3 linked regions of the Homo sapiens genome follow. The protein of the gene in region 2 interacts with the protein of the main gene of each other region in a biochemical or structural test. Each region holds a gene or a part of one and is shown on either strand. Other genes may lie near its edges. The genes, in order: NOSIP, IPO5 and NUP214.

The links.
Region 1: the proteins of IPO5 (region 2) and NOSIP form a complex in vitro, tested with the Homo sapiens proteins (one study listed by BioGRID).
Region 3: the proteins of IPO5 (region 2) and NUP214 form a complex in vitro, tested with the Homo sapiens proteins (one study listed by BioGRID).

The regions. Positions count from the first base shown.
Region 1 is NC_000019.10:49,570,467-49,577,576, reverse strand, and holds part of NOSIP (nitric oxide synthase-interacting protein), read left to right. Parts: intron 1-699; exon of another isoform or gene 700-818; intron 819-2,592; exon of another isoform or gene 2,593-2,986; intron 2,987-7,110. UniProt on the Homo sapiens protein: E3 ubiquitin-protein ligase that is essential for proper development of the forebrain, the eye, and the face. Catalyzes monoubiquitination of serine/threonine-protein phosphatase 2A (PP2A) catalytic subunit PPP2CA/PPP2CB.
Region 2 is NC_000013.11:97,949,801-97,956,784, forward strand, and holds the start of IPO5 (importin-5), read left to right. Parts: upstream 1-3,874; 5' UTR 3,875-3,916; intron 3,917-4,302; exon of another isoform or gene 4,303-4,318; 5' UTR 4,319-4,398; intron 4,399-6,984. UniProt on the Homo sapiens protein: Functions in nuclear protein import as nuclear transport receptor. Serves as receptor for nuclear localization signals (NLS) in cargo substrates.
Region 3 is NC_000009.12:131,128,485-131,135,594, forward strand, and holds part of NUP214 (nuclear pore complex protein Nup214), read left to right. Parts: intron 1-794; coding exon 795-993; intron 994-2,281; coding exon 2,282-2,352; intron 2,353-4,111; coding exon 4,112-4,175; intron 4,176-4,621; coding exon 4,622-4,725; intron 4,726-6,413; coding exon 6,414-6,520; intron 6,521-7,110. UniProt on the Homo sapiens protein: Part of the nuclear pore complex. Has a critical role in nucleocytoplasmic transport.

The sequences.
Region 1 (7,110 bases), on a different chromosome or scaffold from region 2:
CCCAAGATATACTTCTTTTCTTTTTTTTTCTTTTTTTGAGACAGAGTCTTGCTCTGTCACCCAGGCTGGAGTGCAGTGGCGTGATCTCGGCTCCCAGGTTTGAGCGACTCTCCTGCCTCAGCCTCCCGACTAGCTGGGGCTACAGGCATGCGCTACCACGCCTAGCTAATTTTTGTATTTTTAGTAGAGATGGGGTTTCGCCATGTTGGCCAGGATGGTCTCGATTTCTTGACCTCATGATCCGCCCGCTTTGGCCTCCCAAAGTGCTGGGATTACAGGCATGAGCCACCGCGCCCCGCCTGCATGGATGTATGTTTTTATTTCTATTGGCAGTGGAATTGCTGGGTCAAAAGGTGACTATTTAACCTTTTGAGAAACTGTGACTTTTCCAGAATGGCTGTACCATTTTACATTTCTACCACCAATGTATAAGGGTTCCAGTTTCTCCATATCCACACCAGCACTTATTATTTATCTTTTTGATTATAGTCATTCTAGGGGGTGTGAACTGGTGTCTTTTAACATGCTTATTGGCCATTTGTAGATCTTTGAAGAACTGTCTATTCCAATCCTTTACCCATTTTCAAATTGTGTTAGGTGTCCTTTCATTATTGAGTTGTAAGTTTTTAATATATTCTCACTGCAATTCCCTTATCAGATATCCTGATTTTTTTTTTTTTTTTTTTTTTTTTGAGACAGAGTTTCACTCTTGTTGCCTAGGCTGGAGTGCAATGGTGCGATCTTGGCTCATCACGACCTTCGCCTCCCAGGTTCAAGTGATTGTCCCATTTCAGCCTCCCGAGTAGCTGGGATTACAGGTATGCACCACCACGCCCAGCTAATTTTGTATTTTTAGTAGAGATGGGGTTTCTCCATGTTGGTCAGGCTGGTCTCGAATTCCCAACCTCAGGTGATCCGCCCACCTCGGCCTCCCAAAGTGCTGGGATTACAGGTGTGAGCCACCTCACCTGGCATTTTTTTTTTTTTCCCCAGAGACAAGGTCTCACTCTGTCACTCAGTCTGGAGTGCAGTGGTGCAGTGGCACGATCATAACTCACTGCAGCCTCAACCTCCTGGGATCAAGTGATCCTCCTGCCTCAGCCTCCCAAGTAGCTGGGACCACAGGCGCATGCCACTATGCCCGGCTAATTTTTTAAATTTTGTTTTGTGGAGATGGAGTCTTGCTATGTTGCCCATAGCAAGTTCAAGTCTGGTCTCAAAAACCATGCTGCTGCTGCTTTTTTTTGGTAGAGACAGGGTTTTGGCATGTTGCTCAGGCTGGTCTTGAACTCGTGAGTTCAAGTGATCCTCCTGCCTTTGCCTCCCAAAGCACCCTATCCAGGTATGAGCCACAACAGCCAGGAGATATCTGACTTTTGTAACTGCTACCTGTTTTTGTTCAGCCTGCAAACTAAAAATGGTTTTTAACATTTTTTTTTTATAAGATGGAGTCTCGCTCTGTCGCTCAGGCTGGAGTGCAGTGGCGTGATCTCCGCTCACTGCAAGCTCCACCTCCCGGGTTCATGCCATTCTCCTGCCTCAGCTTCCGGAGTAGCTGGGACTACAGGCGCCCGCCACCACGCCCGGCTAATTTTGTTTTTGTATTATTAGTAGAGACGGGGTTTCACCGTGTTAGTCAGGATGGTCTCAATCTCCTGACCTCACGATCTGCCCGCCTTGGCCTCCCAAAGTGCTGGGATTACAGGCGTGAGCCACTGCGCCTGGCCTGGTTTTTAACGTTTTTACATAACTGGAAAAAACCAAAAGAATGAATTTGGTGACCTATGACAATTATATGTGATTCCGTGTCAGAGTCTAAAAGTAAAGTTTTATTGGAACACAGCCATGCCCGTTTGTGTGTCTGTGGCTGCTTTTATGCTACAGGGGCTGAGTGGAGTACTTACAGGGGCTGTTTGGCCTGCAAAGTTCAAAACATTTACTCTCTGGCCCTTTTTTGTTATTCCCTGCTATATCCTCTGACTTCCTAGAATCAGGAAATTGAATGTAAAGACTTGATTAAATTTCCATTCAGCTGTCAGGTGATTACTTCAGAGCTGGTCGCTTCATGTTGCATACTGCCTGGGTGCCCCATTTTCAGGGGTAGTGAAATTCATTCAGGCTCAGGCAGCATTATAGACTGAATGTCCCCCCCAGATTCGTATATTGAAGCCCTAATTCCCCAAGGTGATTATATTTGGAGGTAGGGCCTTTGTGGAGATAATTAAGGTGAAAGAGTGGGGCCCTAATCTGATGGATTGGTGTCCTTATAATAGGAGGAGGCTGCGCATGGTGGCTCATGCCTATAATCCCAGCACTGTGGGAGGCCAAGGCAGGTGGATCACATGAGATCAGGAGTTCAAGACCAGCCTGGCCAACATGGTGAAACTCTGTCTCTACTAAAAATACAAAAATGAGGCCGGGCGCAGTGGCTCACGCCTGTAATCCCAGCACTTTGGGAGGCCGAGGTGGGCAGATCACGAAGTCAGGAGATAGAGACCATCCTGGCTAACGTGGTGAAACCCCCTCTCTACTAAAAATACAAAAAAATTAGCCGGGCATGGTGGCGGGCGCCTGTAGTCCCAGCTACTCGGGAGGCTGAGGCAGGAGAATGGCATGAACCCTGGAGGCAGAGCTTGCAGTGAGCCGAGATCACGCCACTGCACTCCAGCCTGGGTGACAGAGCGAAACTCCGTCTCAAAAAAAAAAAAAAAAAATTAGCCAGGCATGGTGGTGGACGCCTGTAATCCCAGCTACTTAGGAGGCTGAAGCAGGAGATTCACTTGGGCCTGGGAGGCGAGATCCGCCGCTGCACTCCAACCTAGGTGACAAAGTGAGACTCCTCCCAAAAAACAGAAGGAGACACCAGAGAGCTTTCTCTCTGCCACTGAAGATAGCCATCTGCAAACCAGGAAGAGGGTGTCACCAGAACCCCACAATGCTGGTAGCCTGAACTTAGACTTCCAGCCTCAGGAACTGGAGAAAATAGGTCTGTTGTTTAAGCCACCCAGAGTGGTGTTTTGTTATGGCAGCTGGAGCAGACTGAGACAGGTGGCAGCCATCGAAAACCGCATTGTAAAGCTACAACTGTGTATTTTCCAGTAGCAAGAATTAGCATCCTGTGACTATCCAGGCCCCATCAGCCTCTCCTTTAATGCCATCCATCAACAATCATTGCCTGAGTCAGCTATTTCACCAGAGGTTGCAAAATGGCAGTTTTCCTATTCTCCCATTTCTCTTACACTTAGTCTGAATAATTTGGTTTTTGTCTTGAGTCATGTCCAAGAAGCAGTTGAAGAGAGTGACTTAATCAAACTTCCATTCTGAAAAGCCCCCCTGAGGCTGGTTTGTCAAGGAATAGACTGAGGAAGAGGCCAATTTCTCCAAGCTTCAATTTTCCTACCTATTAAATGAGCAAGACTGGGCGCGGTAGCTCATGCCTGTAATCCCAGCACTTTGGGAGGCCGAGGTAGTAGATCACCTGAGGTCAGGAGTTCAAGACCCAGCCTGGCCAACATGGTGAAACCCCGTCTCTACTAAAAATACAAAAAAAGTATCTAGGCATGGTGGTGTGTGCTTGTAATCCCAGCTACTTGGGAGGCTGAGGCAGGAGAATCACTTGAACCTGGGAGGTGGAGGTTGCAGTGAGTCAAGATCGTGCCACTGCACTCCAGTCCGGGTGACAGAGTGAGACTCCGTCTCCAAAAAAAAAAAAAAAAAAATACTTCAGTCCTGGTGACAGTGAGACTGTCTCCAAAATAAATACATACATACATACATACATACATAAAATAAAATAAATGGGCAGAACGTGGGGAGGTTGTCATGAGGACCGAATGTGTTCACATGTGGAAAGTGCTTCCCACAAGGTCTGATTCTTAAGGGGTTGAAGGATGTGATGATTACTTCTGTTCTTCCAGTGCTTCTGTGATTCACATGTTACTAATGAATTATTAGTGTATTAATGGCATGATGTCATGGCTGCATGGTTAGTTCATTGCTAACCCACCTCCCCTGGCCCTAGGATTGGAGGTGGTTCATTGATTCTATCATGACATCTCTGAGACCTCCCAGGTGCCAGGCAATGCTGGGACCCAGGCTGAAGTTCAACCCAGGCCCCACCAACCAGGGCCCCTACTCTGGAGCCGAAATACCGAGGGACGGGCTGTAACGGAGGTAGCTCAGGGCACGGTCAAGTGCAAGGAGAACCTAACTGATCCCGGAGAGGCAGGCTTCTTGGAGGAGGCAAACCTTGGCAGTGCTCTGGAGGAGAAAGGAGACAGGATTTCAGGGGAGGACAAGACACACACTAGCTGTCTGATCCACTCCCAGAGTTCAGCACAGTGCCTGAGGCCGCCTGCAGCCAGCTGGCACAGTGGATGGTCAAAGCCACAGGTGCTTGGATCAAACACAGCTGTAGGACTCACTAGCTGCATAACCTAGGGCACCGCCTCTGTGCCTCTCTTCATTTATAGCAACTATTTGAGGTGCTGTGATATTCAGTGGAGTGTTGTGATATTCGACCGTTTGAGGTGTTATGATATTCAGTAAAATGCTTAGAGCCAGGGTCTGCTTCAGAGCCGGGCTTTTTTTTTTTTTTTTTTTTTGAGACACAGTCTTGATCTGTTGGCCAGGCTGGAGTGCAGTGGCCCGATCTTGGCTCACTGCAACCTCTGCCCCCAGGTTCAAGCGATTCTCCTGCCTCAGCCTCCCGAGTAGCTGGGACTACAGGCACCTGCCACCACACCCAGCCAATTTTTGCATTTTTAGTAGAGACAGGGTTTCGCCACATTGGCCAGGCTGGTCTTGAACTCCTGACCTCAGGTGATCTGCCCGCCTTGGGCTCCCAAAGTGCTGGGATTACAGGCGTGAGCCACTGCTCCCAGCCATATATATATATATATTTTAAAGTATCTCCAATGAAAATTTAGCATCTGATGGCCAGGCCAATGTGGTGAAACCCCATCTGTGCTAAAAATACAAATATAAAAATACAAAAATGAGCTGGGCATGGTGGCACACGCCTGGAATTCCAGTTACTTGGGAGGCTGAGGCAGGAGAATGGCTTGAGCCCTGGAGGTGGAGGTTGCAGTGAGCCAAGATTGCACTATTTTGCACTCCAGACTGGGCAACAGAGCGAGACTCTGTCTCAAAAAAAAAAAAAAAAAAAAAAGGCTGGGTGCAGTGACTCATGCTTGTAATCCTAGCACTTTGGGAGGCTGAGGCGGGTGGATCACCTGAGGTCAGGAGTTCGAGACCAGCCTGCCCAACATGGCGAAACCCCATCTCTACTAAAAATACAAAAAATTAGCCAGGCATGGTGGCGGGTGCCTGTAATCCCAGCTACCTGGAAGGCTGAGGCAGGAGAATCACTTGAATCGGGGAGGTGAAGGTTGCAGTGAGCCGAGATCACACCACTGCACTCCACCCTAGGTGATAAAAGCGAAACTCCATCTCAAAAAAAAAAGAAAAAAAAAAGAAAATTTAGCATCTGAATTACTGAAATTACTGAGATGTGCTGAAAGAGTAAAATACATTCTGGATTTCAAAGGCTACAAATAAAGGAATGGATTGGCTTTTTTTTTTTTTTTTTTTTGAGACAGAGTCTCACTCTGTCGCCAGGCTGAAGTGCAGTGGTGCGATCTGGGCTCACTGCAACCTCCACCTCCTGGGTTCAAGCGATTCTTCTGCCTCAGCCTCCCGAGCAGCTGGGACCACAGGCGCGCACCAACACACCCAGCTAATTTTTGTATTTTTAGTAGAGATGGGGTTTCACCATGTTGGCCTGGATGGTCTCAACATCTTGACCTTGTGATCCACCCGTCTCAGCCTCCCAGAGTGCTGGCATTACAGGTTTAAGCCACCGTGGCCAGCCTGATTGGCCTTTTTTCTGAGATTGTGACTTTCCTAGGAAAACTGACAGTTGTCACCTAGTTAAAAGGAATGGCTCCAGAGCCTGGCTGCCTGGGTCTGAGTCCCAGCTCTGCCATTTCCCAGCTGGGACATGCTGTGAGCCTGTTTCCTGTGCTGTGAGGTAGGGATTATGCTGACATCGGTCGCTCCTGCTCTTTGCCTGTTTCCTCTCTGAAATGCTGGTGACAGCAGATGGCAGCAGTCTGCTTTGTAGTTTGAAATTGGACCTACCAAAGAGACAATATAGTGTGGGGCAGGAGAGCTCAGCTTTCAGAGTTTGTAAATCCTGAAACTGGCTATTCTTCCACCCTTGGTTGGAGGCGCTCACGCTTTCTGGTCTCAGGATCTTAAAAATCACTGAGTTTTAAAAATCAAAGAGTTTGCCGGGTGCAGTGGTTCATGCCCGTAATCCTTGCACTTTGGGAGGCTGAGGTGGGCGGATCACTTGAGATCAGGAGTTCAGAACTAGCCTGGCCAACATGGTGAAACCCTGTCTCTACTAAAAAATACAAAAAAAAAAAAAAAAAAATTAGCTGGGCGTGGGCGCCTGTTATCTCAGCTACTTGGGAGTCTGAGGCAGGAGAATTGCTTGAACCCAGGAGGTGGAGGTTGCAGTGAGCCGAGATCACACCACTGCACTCCAGCTTCGGCAACAGAGCAAGACTCCATCTCAAAAAAAACAAATTAAATTAAAAAAAGTTTAAATGCTCCCTCTATAGGTGTTCCTCCTATTTTTGGAGGGAAAATGTCCCCATCTATGTAGAAACCTCAGTTCTTGGCCACAAAACAGCAAGCAAGCTCATCTCTGGGAAAGCCGAGGTGCCCAGAGCCAAATACTGCAGAGGGTCAAGGGAGTTGACAACTAAGAATAGAGTGGGGAATGTGTCCATGAAAAGGTCACCGTGACCTTCATGAGTGGCAGTTGTGGGGGCTGGGGAGCGGATGGCAGGTGAGGGGAGGCAACAGGTGTTGGACGTTCACTGAGAAGCTTGGGGGTCAGGGGGAAGTCGGAGGAGGAGCCTGGCATGTGGAGGGGACCCTGGGTCAAGTTGGGGTGTTTGATCAAGGTCGCCCTTCTGCAAGCAGCCCTGGCTGCCTCAGGGGGCACATTGATCGGGAAGGGGCGTGAGGGGGTATTTAGCGTGATAGGAAGGTTCTGTATCTCCATAGGGTCGTGGTCACAAGGGTGTATACATTTGT
Region 2 (6,984 bases):
AAATACAAAAATGAGTCCAGGCGTGGTGGCTCACGCCTGTAATCCCAGCACTTTGGGAGGCCAAGGCAGGTGGATCACCAAAGGTCAGGAATTCGAGATCAGCTGGCTAACATGGTGAAACCCCATCTCTACTAAATATACAAAATAGCTGGGCATAGTGGCACACACCTGTAATCCCAGCTACTCAGGAGGCTGAGGCAGGAGAATCGCTTGAACCCGGGAGGTGGAGGTTGCAGTGAGCCAGGATCGCATCGCTGCACTCCAGCCTGGGTGACAGAGTGAGACTCAGTCTCCAAAAAAAAAAAAAAAAAAAAAATACAAAAATTAGCCGGGCATGGTGGCATGTGCCTGTAATCCCAGTTACTCGGGAGGCTGAGGCAGAATTGCTTGAACCCTGGAGGAGGAGGTTGCAGTTAGCTGAGATCACACCACTGCACTCCAGCCTGGGCGACAGAGCAAGACTTTGTCTCAGGAAAAAAAAAAAAAAAAAGTATCCCTGCACAAGCTCTCTTCTCCTGTCTGCCGCCATGTGAGATGTGCCTTTCACCTTCCGCCATGTTTGTGAGGCCTCCCCAGCCATGTGGAATCATAAGCCCAACAAACCTCTTCCTTTTGTAAGTTGCCCAGTCTTGGGTATGTCTTTATCATCACTGTGAAAACGGACTAATAAAGCCACAATGCAAAATATCCACCATAGTGCTCTCTATATGTGACTTTCTAGCCTACCCTTATCCACCATGGTGATTCCTATTCAGTATTCCACTGGTTGTGCCTGCTGATGAAGAAATCAATGTATATTCCCCTAAATCCTGTCTTTGGTGTAGGTTTGGAATGCCCAAGGATCAGCCAGTGCAGTCAGGTCTGCTGGCACCTTCCAAAAAACCAAGTGATATGGTTTGCCTGTGTCCCCACCCAAATTTCATCTTGAATTGTAGCTCCCATAATTCCCGTGTGTTGTGAAAGGGACCCGGTAGGAGATATTTGAACCATGGGGGCAGTTTCCCTCATACTGTTCTTGTGGTAGTGAATAAGCCTCACGAGATCTGACGATTTTATAAGAGGTTTCTCCTTTCACTTGGTTCTCATTCTCTCTTGCCTGCCACCATGTAAGATGTATCTTTTGCTTTCCACCATGACTATGAGGCCTCCCCAGCCACATGGAACTGTGAGTCCATTAAACCTCTTTTTCTTTATAAATTACCCAGTCTCAGGTATGTCTTTTTTTTTTTCTTTTTTTTTTTTGAGACCAAGTCTTGCTCTGTCACCCAGGCTGGAGTACAGTGGCACAATCTCGGCTCACTGCAACCTCCACCTCCTGGGTTCAGTGATTCTCCTGCCTCAGCCTCCCAAGTAGCTGGGACTACAGGCACCCACGACCATGCCCAGCTAATTTTTCTATTTTTAGTAGAGACAGGGTTTTGCCATGTTGGCCAGGGTGGTCTCGAACTCCTGACCTCAGCCTCCCAAAGTGCTAGGATTAGAGGCATGAGCCACTGTGCCCAGCCACGGTCTTTATCAGCAGCATGAAAACAGACTAATACACCAAGCAACTGGTCAATGTCATAGGCACTGGAGAAACTTCTCGGATTTGTTCTTTTAAAATGTTCTTCAGGAAGGGCACAATGGCTCACCCCTGTAATCCCAGCACTTTGGGAGGCCAAGGTGCTCCCAGCTCACTTGAGGCCAGGAGTTCAAGATCAGCCTAGGCAACACAGTGAGACCCTCCCCCAACGTCTACAAACATTTTTTTAGAACATTAACCAAGTATGGTGGGGCATGCAGTGAGCCATGATTGCATCACTGGACTCCAGGGTGGGTAACAGTGCAAGACTGTCTCTAAAAAAAGAACTAAAAAATAAACAAATACGTAACTAAATAAAATGTTCTTCATACATTTTGCAGTAACCTTGTAACCATTCAATCGCTGATTCTGAATCTATGTAAATTCTGGTATCAGACCCTTGGTAAGATGCTTGAGCAAAATGCCATGAAGACACCTGCCCACAAGCCAAAATGTTAGAAGTCAGGTGCAGTAGCGAGCTCCTGCAGTCCCAACCACTTGGGAGGCTGAGGCAGGAGGATCTCTTGAGCCCATAGTTCGAGACCAGCCTGGGTAACATAATGAGACCCCTGTCTCAAAAACAAAAAAAGAACCAGTGACATAGGATGAGGACGAAGAAGCAAGGAATAGTGCTGAAGAACTTTCAGGATATGCGGGGTGACACTAGAAAGTGCTTAGACATCACACGTTACCAAGAAAAAAATGTGACCTATACAAAGGAGTCTGCCCATGTCCTATGAAACAATTTAAAAATCAAAAATAGGCCGGGTGCGTTGGCTCATGCCTGTAATCCCAGCACTTTGGGAGGCCAAGGTGGGCAGATTACGAAGTCAGGAGATCGAGACCATCCTGGCTAACATGGTGAAACCCCGTCTCTACTAAAAATATAAAAATTAGCCGAGCATGGTGGCGCGTGCCTGTAATCCCAGCTACTTGGGAGGCTGAGGCAGAAGAATCGCTTGAACCAGAGAGGCAGAGGTTGCAGTGAGCTGAGATCACACCAGCCTGGGCAACAGAGAGAGACTCTGTATCAAAAAAAAAAGAAATAAATAATTACAAAAATGGAGTTTGGCTTTAATTAATGATCTGAATTAATAAAAACAACAAAATGCTAGGCCAGCGCAGGGGATCATGCCTGTAATCCCAGCACTTTGAGAGGCCGAGGCAGATGGATCACTTGAGGTCAGGAGTTCAAGACCAGCCTGGCCAACGTGGTGAAACCCCATCTGTACTAAAATACAAAAATTATTCGGGCATGGTGGTGGGCACCTGTAATCCCAGCTACTTGGGAGGCTGAGGCAGGAGAATTTCTTGAACCCGGGAGGTGGAGGTTGCAGTGAGCCGAGATCACGCCACTGCACTCCAGCCTGGGCAACAGAGTGAGAATCTGTCTCAAAAAAAAAAGAAAAGCTAAATGTACAAAGCTAGGGCATTGAGATCCATGAGAATACAGGGCAAAATTGATGTTAATCTGTCATATAAAAATTTAATTACATCCCATAAATATCTGCAATTTTTTATTGTTTATTTTTTGAGACAAGGTCTCACTCTGTTGCCCAGGCTGGAGTGCAGTGGTGCAATCACAGCTCACTGCAGCTTCAACCTCCCCCGGCTCAGATGATCCTCCCACTTCAGCTTCCTGAGCAGCTGGGACTACAGGTGTGCACTGCCACACGCATCTAATATTTGCATTTTTCATAGAGATGGGGTTTTGCCATGTTGCCAAGACTGGTCTTGAACTCCTGAGCTCAAATGATCCTCCCACCTCGGCCTCCCAAAGTGCTGGAATTACAGGCATGAGCCACCCCGCCCAGCCAATATTTATAATTATTACATGTCAACTAAAATAAAAGAAAAAGTAATTTAATCACAAACCCAGTTGACATAAACGTATGTAATATGGAATTTCCTGTTGTTTCCATACAAATTTATCTTTGTCTATTTGAGAGATCAATTTCTCTTTTCAGTATTGAGTAGTGAATAGAATCAAAATCTGTGGGTAAAGAAGCTACTCAGACAGTTTCAAAACTGAATTTGATGACACATTTGTACCCAATCTGAGTGGCCCCCAGCAACATGGGTTTTGAGTTCTCAAAGGCCAATAGATAGCTCCCTTTCCTTTCCACAGCTTTGGGAGCTTGGGCTACCCTGTAACGTCTAAATGCCTGTGCAGTGTGGGCCTGTGAAGCTGGCAGGGTGGGCAGTGTAAATGCCCACTAGCAGGAGCCAGCTGACCTCCTGCGTGTCACAATAGCAGCCAGGTGTCTCCACGGTGACGTCTCTGAGCCAGGAGGTCAGAACTGTGGGATTGATGACCTCCCACAACTGGAGCAGCCGGGAACAGCTCTGACCACAGTAAGTCATCCCAAAACCTCACATTCAGATGAAACCATTTAAGAATTTCATCTGCACTGAGGAACAATTTAGCGTGATACTGGAGGGAAAGAGTTTCCCTGTGAGATCCAGGAGGTCCCTTTAGCTCGTCTCCTGACGTCACCACAGTCATACCCAAGAGGAAGGAAACGTCAGAGACAATGATTTGGAGAACATTCTACACAAAAACCAAGTATGAAACAATGACGATTTCATGATGGCTCATTGTTCTTTGGTATTGTGCCTTACGTGAGCTGGGGACTAACTCTGTATCCTTAAGGAGGCATCACTTGATTAGAGTTGCCCAAAAGAATGTGGGTTATTATCCTAAAGGTCTGTGTTGCCATCCTGAAACAGTCAGAAATCAGTTTTTATTTCACTTAGGTGGTTCCGGGGAGAAGCCTTTCCAGGACCCATGTGTAGGCACAACTGTTTTCCCTGATCAGGATACTTGCGGCACTCAAGTGAGTCTAGAATTATCAGATTTTGTTCTGTCTCTCTTCACTGTGAATTCTATTCTTTATTTCCTTTAAAACAAAAAGCTCCTGCTATTTTCTCCTATAATTATGATATCTGTTTCTTGATCATTTTACCTTCTATTCACCAATTAATTGAAATCCAACCCATCAGGATTATCTACCCTGCTTTCCTATAGGGAGAATAAAAAGTGCTTAGAAGCAGTATGATTTTCACTGCCTTTAATTTCTCAAATCCCAAGATGTTCCATTTAAAATCTTTAGAGTATCTATTTTGTCTTCTGTACATTATGGTTGTATTCCCTCAGAGGCCGAGTATATTTTATCTTAGTTTTCAGAGATCACTAAAGTCAAGTAAATGAAGGAAAACAGAATTCATTTTCATTATGGGAAAACAAAATCAATCCCTAAGTAGTCAAAAGATTACTTACTTAAGGAACCACCTGGTTAACTTCTTCTCCTAGAACTTAATCCCCTAACTAGGGGTAAAAAAGGCTCATTGTCATCTTATAAAGTATTAGATACCAGGGACTTGTCAAATGCTAATGCCTTTATTATAGAATGTTTAATTTAGACCTTCCTAAACAGTTTTGCTTTCTTCCGTCATTTGTCTGTGATGGAACCTCAAAGACACTAACTAGTATGCGAGACAGATTTGTGTTGGAACATTGTGTTAGCTTTCCAGTAGAGTTAAAACTCTGGAATGCAATTATAAACCTCCAAATGAAAAATACCGGCCGGGCACAGTGGCTCACACCTATAATCCCAGCACTTTGGGAGGCTGAGGTGGGAGGATCACTTGGGCCTAGGAGTTTAAGGTCAGCCTAGGCAACATAGTGAGACCCTGTCTCTACAAAATATAGAAAAAAGTAGCCAGTTATGGCAGAATGCATCTGTAATTCCAGGGACTCAGGAGGCTGAGGTGAGAGGATTCCTTGAGCTGGGGAGGTCAAGACTGCAGTGAGCCATGACTGTGCCACTGCACTCCAGCCTGGGTGACAGAGTGGGACCCTATCACGAAAAAAAAAAAAGAAAAATACCTAAGTGGCCAAATACCTTATAAAGTTCATGCATGCTACTCTACAGGAAATATCCTCAGCTGTCTTCTCTGTGCTGAGTTCATATACTCTTGTGCCTAGTTCATACATGCTTGGTCATCTGCCTTCCAAAGCACACAGCAAACCAGATGATGAGAGCAGCTGACAAGTGGAGACAGTTGTCATTTTATGTTGGCAGCTACAATAAATGACACTGTCTGATGGAGAAAATGAGCGGGGAAAACACTTCCAAAACACAGGCAGAAATATAAGAGTTGAAATCCCAGAGTTCCAGAACAATTTCACCTCAGGGCAAGCAAGCCTAAGTGGCCTGTGTATCCACCACTCTACCACAACCCAGTGACATAACCGACTTGATGGTCCTCAGACGCCGGAGCTGGGAGGATCCCCTAGGGTGCTGCCCAACTCGCCCCAATTTACAGATGAGGAAATGGAGGCCTCAGGAAGCATTGACAGCCCAGTTCAGGATCACAGCTAGTTAAGGGGGAAGCTGCAACTACAGTCAGGATCCCCTCATCCCAAGGGCCAACTTCTATCCTATACGCCCCACTCTGGAAAGGTGAAAAATAATTCAGCATTTTGGCCAGGCGCAGTGGCTCATGCCTGTAATCCCAGCACTTTGGGAGGCCAAGGCAGGCGGATCACAAGGTCAGGAGACCAAGACCTTCCTGGCTTAACACGGTGAAACCCCGTCTCTACTAAAAATACAAAAAATTAGCCGGGCGTGGTGGCGGGCACCTGTGGTCCCAGCTACTCTGGAGGCTGAGGCGAGACAATGGCGTGAACCCGGGAGGTGGAGCTTGCAGTGAGCCAAGATCGCGCCACTGCACTCCAGCCTGGGCGACAGTGCGAGACTCCGTGTCAAAAAAAAAAAAACGAACAAAAAAAGTAAAAAATAAAAATAATAATAATTCAGTGTTTCAAAAGGTTTCAAAAGGCCAGTAAGGAATTAATACATGTTTAAAGAATTTTCTTGACAAAATGGTTGAAGGCTCATTGGTTACATTTGAGAATTAAATAAGATAAAGCATAGAAGGTTATCCCTCAAACACAGAAAGAAATCAAAATGTTGTCAGTTATTATTATAACTTAAAAATCTGATATATAAAAAAGTGCTTTTTTACAGAAGTCAGAAGAAAGTAGGTTGAGCATTTTTAATACTAATCTTTTAAATACCTTTGCTCTGCCAGAAAATTAATTTTCATAAAGCAATACATTGTTGGATCTCACCCTTAGGAAGGTCTTCCCTGGGCACCCTATTTTAACAGTACCCCATCACCTCTAGCTCTTTACTTTGATTTCGTATGCTTTATAACCTATTACCATATGAAACTAAAGATATGTATAAAATCTTTTCTCTAAAGCTTCTCCTAAAGTTCACAGCTAAAATACTATGATTTTCTTCTGGTTTTTAAATAGTCCTCTTGTTAGAAAAGATTTAGCCCTTATCCTCAATCTCACAGCCACTAAATAGTCAATTCACACAAGCCAAGTGATTTGTAAAATAGGAGTCTCT
Region 3 (7,110 bases), on a different chromosome or scaffold from region 2:
TAAGCTACTGTTATACTGTGATGTCAACATGAGAACCCTAAGCAGATTTCCTTGTATTGAATTACAACTTGGAAGCTTCATAGGTTAACCCTTGAAGTTTCTCTCTAGATTAAAATATGGGTTAAAAAAAAATCCTTAATTATAGAATCATAGATCTTTGAGACAGAAGGGACTTCAAGAAATTCTTTCATAACGCCATCTGCCCTAAGTTGTTATCAGGAGGCTTAGGTGACTTGCCCAAAGTCATAGATGAATACATAATGTCAAAAGTTCCTACATTTTGGATGTTCTTCCATTCCAAGCAGTTTAAGAATGATAATAATAGTGAGTGTTTATACTGACTGTGTGTGTTAGACTCTGTACTAAGTGCTTTATATGCCTTGTCCCTCGTTCATGCCTACCACAGCCTTATGTAGTAGGTACTATTATCTTCATTTTATAGGTAGAGAAACAGGCTCAGAGTTTAAGTAACTGTCCAAGGTCCCAACATTATTAAGAAGCAGAGCCAAGATTTTAATCTATTGTCTGCTATTTATTGGTTATTTTGCAATTGTGCATTCCCCTTCTGAGAGTCCCCCTAAGCATGTTAGAATAATTGATTGCCATTTTCAAAGTTGTGTTGAAATTGTCTATAGCAAATAGATTGATGCATAAAACAATCTTTTTTTATGGTTATGGAGAAAAATAAACTGATTTGAGATACCTTGTGTATTCAGTAATTTCCATTGAATATTAAATGTTTCTGCATTTACTATTTGTTAACTTATTTCACTTTTGCATATTTGTTTTAAAAGGCTAAACAGCAAAAACGCCCATTTGCCTATCATAAGCTTTTGAAAGATGCAGGAGGCATGGTGATTGATATGAAGTGGAACCCCACTGTCCCCTCCATGGTGGCAGTTTGTCTGGCTGATGGTAGTATTGCTGTCCTGCAAGTCACGGAAACAGTGAAAGTATGTGCAACTCTTCCTTCCACGGTAGCAGTAACCTCTGGTGAGTAATAAAGGCTTTCACACTGTAGCATACAATCATGGTCATCTACTTAAGAATTGATTTCTAGAAGTGAAAGTGGATAGCTTTTTGTGTTTTGGTTTTTTTTTTCATGACGAGGGAGGTTAAGGATGGAAGGTATTCTTTTTTGAGACAGTCTCACTGTGTCGCCCAGGCTGGAGTACAGTGGCATCATCTCAGCCACTGCAACCTCCACCTCCTGGGTTCAAGCAATTCTCGTGCCTCGGCCACCCAAATAGCTGGGATTATAGACATGCGCCACCATGCCCAGCTAATTTTTGTATTTTTTGTAGAGACAAGGTTTCACCATGTTGGCCAGGCTGGTCTTGAACTCCTGACCTCAAGTGATCTGCCCTCCTCCACCCCGCATATGCTAGGATTACAGGTGTGAGGCACTGTGCCCGGCTGAGAGTATTCTTTATACCCATAGTTAATGTCCTTGAAGCCAAACAGCATACATAATTTAACCTGAATGTACTTGGGATTTCTGGAGAAATATTTTGGTACAGCTGGTTTAGAAGTGTTTTTTGGGAATAATTGTTTCTGGATCTGTAACGGTGGTACTCTGAAAGTCATTTGTACCTTTGGGCGGAAAAGCATTTTAAATATTAAATGGGAGCAGGAGAATGATTTCTGGTTTTGTTTTTTTTTTTTTGTTTTTTTTTTGAGACAGAGTCTTGCTCTGTCGCCCAGGCTGGAGTGCAGTGGCGCGATCTCAGCTCACTGCAACCTCCACCTGCTGGGTTCAAGCAATTCTCTTGCCTCAGACTCCAGAGTAGTTGGGATTACAGGTGCCTGCCACCATGCCCAGCTAATTTTTGTATATTTTAGTAGAGACGGGGTTTCACCATGTTGGCCAGGCTGGTCTTGAACTTCTGACCTCAAGTGATCCGTCCGTCTCATCCTCCCAAAGTGCTGGGATTACAGGCATGAGCCACTGTGCCCGGCCAGTGATTTCTTGGTATTTGGAAACCTTCTCTGTTCTCCTTGTCTTATGTAAAGACTACAGAGTTTTCTGTATTTTGCAGCTTTCTGGGCAGTAATCTATTGAAAAAGCATTTTTAGCTTTCAATTCAATAGCCCAGTGATAAATCAATTGGCTTATATCGTTAAAATGATTTTACTTTTTTCCACTTTGCCTGATAGAGATGATCCTACAATCTTCCATGGACTGACAGAGGAATGAGAATTGATAATTAGCTGTGTGTGATAGATCTTATTGGTTTGCTCCATTTTCTTGTTTTCATTTGGTAATACTGTCTTTGCTCAGTGTGCTGGAGCCCCAAAGGAAAGCAGCTGGCAGTGGGAAAACAGAATGGAACTGTGGTCCAGTATCTTCCTGTAAGTTCTTATCTTGAACTTCAGAATTTTTCTTAAGTTGCCCACTTTTTTGGGGGTGGTTTGGGAGTATCTTTCTTGTTTTTCCTATTAAAAAGTAATTTATACTCATTGTAACAAATCCATCAGTGAATGAAGAGTGGAACTCTTCCCTTTCCCATAGTCCTTCTTCCAGAGGCACCCACTATGTTGTGTTGAGTAGATAGCCTTCCATACTTTTCTGGATGTTATACAAATAGTCTATGGGTAGCTGCTTTTTTTTTGTTGTTGTTTTTATGTAAAATGTGATCATACGCTATGCGCTGTTCCCCACCTTTTTCAGTCCATTCCATAAAAACAGCTCAAGGGAAAAGAGTTAGTGAAAAAACTATGATGATAATGCAGAATCACTCTGGGTTAAAGCACAGTATTTGTCTTTTAACTGAGTCTGTCTTTAAAGGTCTGTTTGTCTAACTATGGGCACCAAAGAAAATGGATACTCTTGTTGCATGTGCACTCTGTCATCCTCCCTGTGAATTTCTTGAAATAATGTTCACAAATATCCTTCAATATCAATTGAGTTGCAAGGAACCCCCATATGTCTATTGAGCCTGGACACGAAGGAGGGATTCACAGGTGGTGCTAAGGCCTTTCTTGTGCCTTCCTCCTCAAGACTGTTCTCTGGCGAGGAGGGGAGCAGAGTGGTGAATGTAGGTGGTATAGGTTTAAGGTTAAGGTTATGTTTCTTATTTGTTATTACCAAAAGTTACCTGAAATTTGGTACATAATCTTTTAGGACACTAACCTGTAAAAAGATAATGCAATTTTTTAAATTTTCTTGCTTTGCTGTTTGCCTTAATTTTTTATTTATTTATTATTATTTTTTTTTGAGAGATGGTCTTGCTCTGTTGCCCAGGCTGGGGTGCAATGGTGTGATAACGTAATGGTTCACTGCAGCCTCAGCCTCCTGGGCTCAGGTGATCCTTCCACTTCAGCCTCCCGGGTAGCTGAGACTACAGGCACTTGCCACCATGCACAGCTAATTTTTGTATTTTTTGTAGAGATAGGGTTTTGCCATGTTGCCCAGGCTGGTCTCAAACTCCTGGGCTCAAGCAGTGTGCCCACCTTGGCCTTCCAAAGTGCTGGGATTACAGACATGAGCCACCTCGCCCAGCCTTATTCCACTATTGATGATTGTCTGCATCAGTGCTAGTGGCGTTGCTGCTGCAAATGGTGTTGCATTGACTACTCTCATTACCTATATCTGAACATGTTCATGCGTTCATGCGTTTCTTTTCTTTTCTTTCTTTTTTTTTTTTTTTTGGAGACCAAGTTTTGCTTTTGTCACCCAGGCTGGAGTGCAATGACGTGATTTCAGCTCACCGCAACCTATGCCTCCTGGGTTCAAGCAGTTCTCCTGCCTCAGCCTCCCGAGTAGCTGGGATTACGGCACCCGCCACCACACCCAGCTATGTATTTTTAGTAGAGACGGGGTTTCGCCATGTTGGCCAGGCTAGTCTCGAACTCCTGACCTCAGGTGATCCACCTGCCTCGGCCTCCCAAAGTGTTGAGATTACAGGCATGAGTCACCACACCCAGCCACGTTCATGGGTTTCTGTAGGATGAAGTCCTGGAAGTAGATAGCACTATTCTGTTTCTTCAGTCTCTCCCGGCCAAGGAGATGGAACAGGTAGCATCTAAGGAATAGATTAGATTTGACAGTTTGATTGGTTTAGGATTTGTTTCATTTGATACTTTATTTTCCCCTCCAAATCTCTTTCAGACTTTGCAGGAAAAAAAAGTCATTCCTTGTCCTCCGTTTTATGAGTCAGATCATCCTGTCAGAGGTAACAACTGCTTTTCTTATTGGGCTGACCTCTAATGACATGTTATGTATATTACAGAAATTCAAAATCATGTAATGTACCTGCTCAGTGAGGTATTGGTGTTTGCTTTATGAATAATGTCACTATTTCAAACAGCTAATTAAGTCAGTGTAAATTATGGCCCTCTGGGTGACATCTGTGTTTCACGATAAATGACATGAAATGGATCCCGACTTTTTATTACAATTCTTCATAATTTGCCCTGATTATAATCCAGCAGAAAAATTACCATTTGGGGATGAGTTTGGGCTTCTTGGGTCATTGTACCTGTGCATTATATTTAGTCAATGAAATCAGGGCCTTTGATTTTTTTTTTATCCATAGTGGCTATTCCAAACATAAGCTGCTTTTTCTTGTATCTGGTTGCTGTCATTTTTATGAGCTACTGATTAAGATGTGTCTTTCAGTTCTGGATGTGCTGTGGATTGGTACCTACGTCTTCGCCATAGTGTATGCTGCTGCAGATGGGACCCTGGAAACGTCTCCAGATGTGGTGATGGCTCTACTACCGGTATGCCTGTGGAAGAAATTTCATTGTTTGAGAATTAGAGAAGTCTTCTAATAAAGCTGGAGGCTTTGATTTCAAGGGGTTTTTTTGTGTTTGTGTTTTTTTTTTTTTTTTTTGAGACAAGATCTCACTCTGTCGCCCAGGCTAGAGTGCAGTGATGCGATCTCACCTCACTGAAGCCTGGACCTCCTGGACTCAAGTGATCCTCCCACCTTAGCCTTCTGAGTAGCTGGTACTACAGGTGCACACCACTATGCCTGGCTAATTTTTTTTTTTTGGTAGAGATGGAGTTTCACCATGTTGCCCAGGCTGGTCTTGAACTCCTGAGCTCAAGTGATCTGCCCACCTAGGCTTCTCAAAGTGCTGGGATTACAGGTGTGCGTCACCGCACCTGGCCTGATTTCAGGTTCTTTTACTTACTGGCAGTGATTATGCAACTTCAGGTATAAGGTTTCCATGCTGCACCATGGGCCAGGGGTCTAAAATTGGAGTGTCCACAGCATGTTCTACTGTTATGAGGTTAAAAAAAAAATGATTTTGCTTAAGCTATAAACTATGAGTCTTGGTTAACTCGATAAATTTTAGAAAAGCAAGACAGTATCTTGATTTTTAAAATTATTTCATTTGCTCTCGAATATTTAATGCCAACAGTGTGCTAGGCACTGCTTTAAAGCTGAGTATATAGCAGTGATCAAGGTGATGGGCTTGCTTTTATGGTTTTAAGTTTGTTGTTGTTGTTAATTTTTATTTATTTTTTAGAGACAGAATCTCACTCTGTTGCCCAGGCTGGCATGTAGTGGTGCGATCACAGCTCACTACAGCCTCAAATTCTTGGGCTTAAGCCATCCTCCTGCCTCAGCCTCCCGAGTAGTTGGGACCACAGGCATGCACCAACACAGCCAGCTGTTTTTAAATTTTTCGCAGAGGTAGGGTCTTGCTTTGTTGCCCACGCTGGTCTCGGACTCCTGGCTTTAAGCAGTTCTCCCGCCTCATCTCTCAGAGCACTAGGATTACAGGTTTGAGCCACCACACCTGGCTGGTCTTACATTTTAATGGGATAGTCAATACTAAATGTGAGATCAAGGACTGATAAGAGTGATGGAGAAAATAAAGCCGTGTTAGGGATAGATGATGACTGGTATGTGTTTGAGATTGTGTGTCAAGGGAGGCCAATTTGATACTTGAAAAAGATGTCTTGTTTTTAACTCTTTTGGATTTCTAATAAGGTTGAGTTTTTGAAATATGTTTATCTAGATGCCTTATTTTAAGATTAGAGGTTTTTTCTATTCTAGGGGATAATATTAACACTAGTATTTATTAACTGCTACTTATGTTTCATGTACTGGGCTGGAAGTTTTGTATGTATCATTTCATTTTACACTTTACAGTAGCCTCTGAAGTAGGCTTAGTAGGTCTAGTATACACATGAGAACACTAAGTATCAGGAAGGTTGAAAAATCTGCATGTCTCGTGGGCAGAAAGTGGCAGAACAGAGTTTAAATGCAGTTCGGTTGATGGCCAATGTTTGTACTCCTTGTACTAAGTGCTGCCTTTATACCATGTCCGTATATCTGGACTTTGAGTAAATATTCTCATATAACTTTAAATGATTTATTATTTGAGATTCTTTTGCTGTGGGATCTGAGAAAAATTGCACATGAGAATTTTTTTTCTTGCTTTGTTCATTGTAGAAAAAAGAAGAAAAGCACCCAGAGATATTTGTGAACTTTATGGAGCCCTGTTATGGCAGCTGCACGGAGAGACAGCATCATTACTACCTCAGTTACATTGAGGAATGGTGAGCAGAGAGTCTGGACAGGGCATTCCTGCTCTCACTGGAAGATCACACCTGAGTCACCTTGTCCCATGTTGAAATCTTTTCTGATTGATTGATTGATGGATTGGCAGGGTCTCACTCCATTACCCAGGCTGGAGTGCAGTGGCACGATTGTAGCTCACAGAAGCCTGGAACTCCCAGGCTCAAGTGATCCTTCCACCTCAGCCTCCCAGATGGGACTACAAGCACATGCCACCACACCTGGCTTATTTTTAAATAAGTTTTTTGGTTTTTGTTTTTTGTTTTTAGAGATGGGATCTTGCTATGTTGCTCAGACTGGCTTCCCAAAGTACTGAGATTACAGGTGTGAGCTACCGCACCCAGCCTGAAATCTTTTCCATTACAGAGGAAAATGGAGGCTGAGATGCCTTGAACATATTTTCAGCTGATTCTTGATAATGTCTTTCTATTATTTCTGTTTCCCCAATCTTGAATTATTTATCTTAAATACATACTAATTTCAAAAATCTAATTTTCTCAATAACCCCTAGTGATGACTTACGAAAATATTGATATTCAAGGAATATATTAAAAGTTTCCTGAGAGCAGAG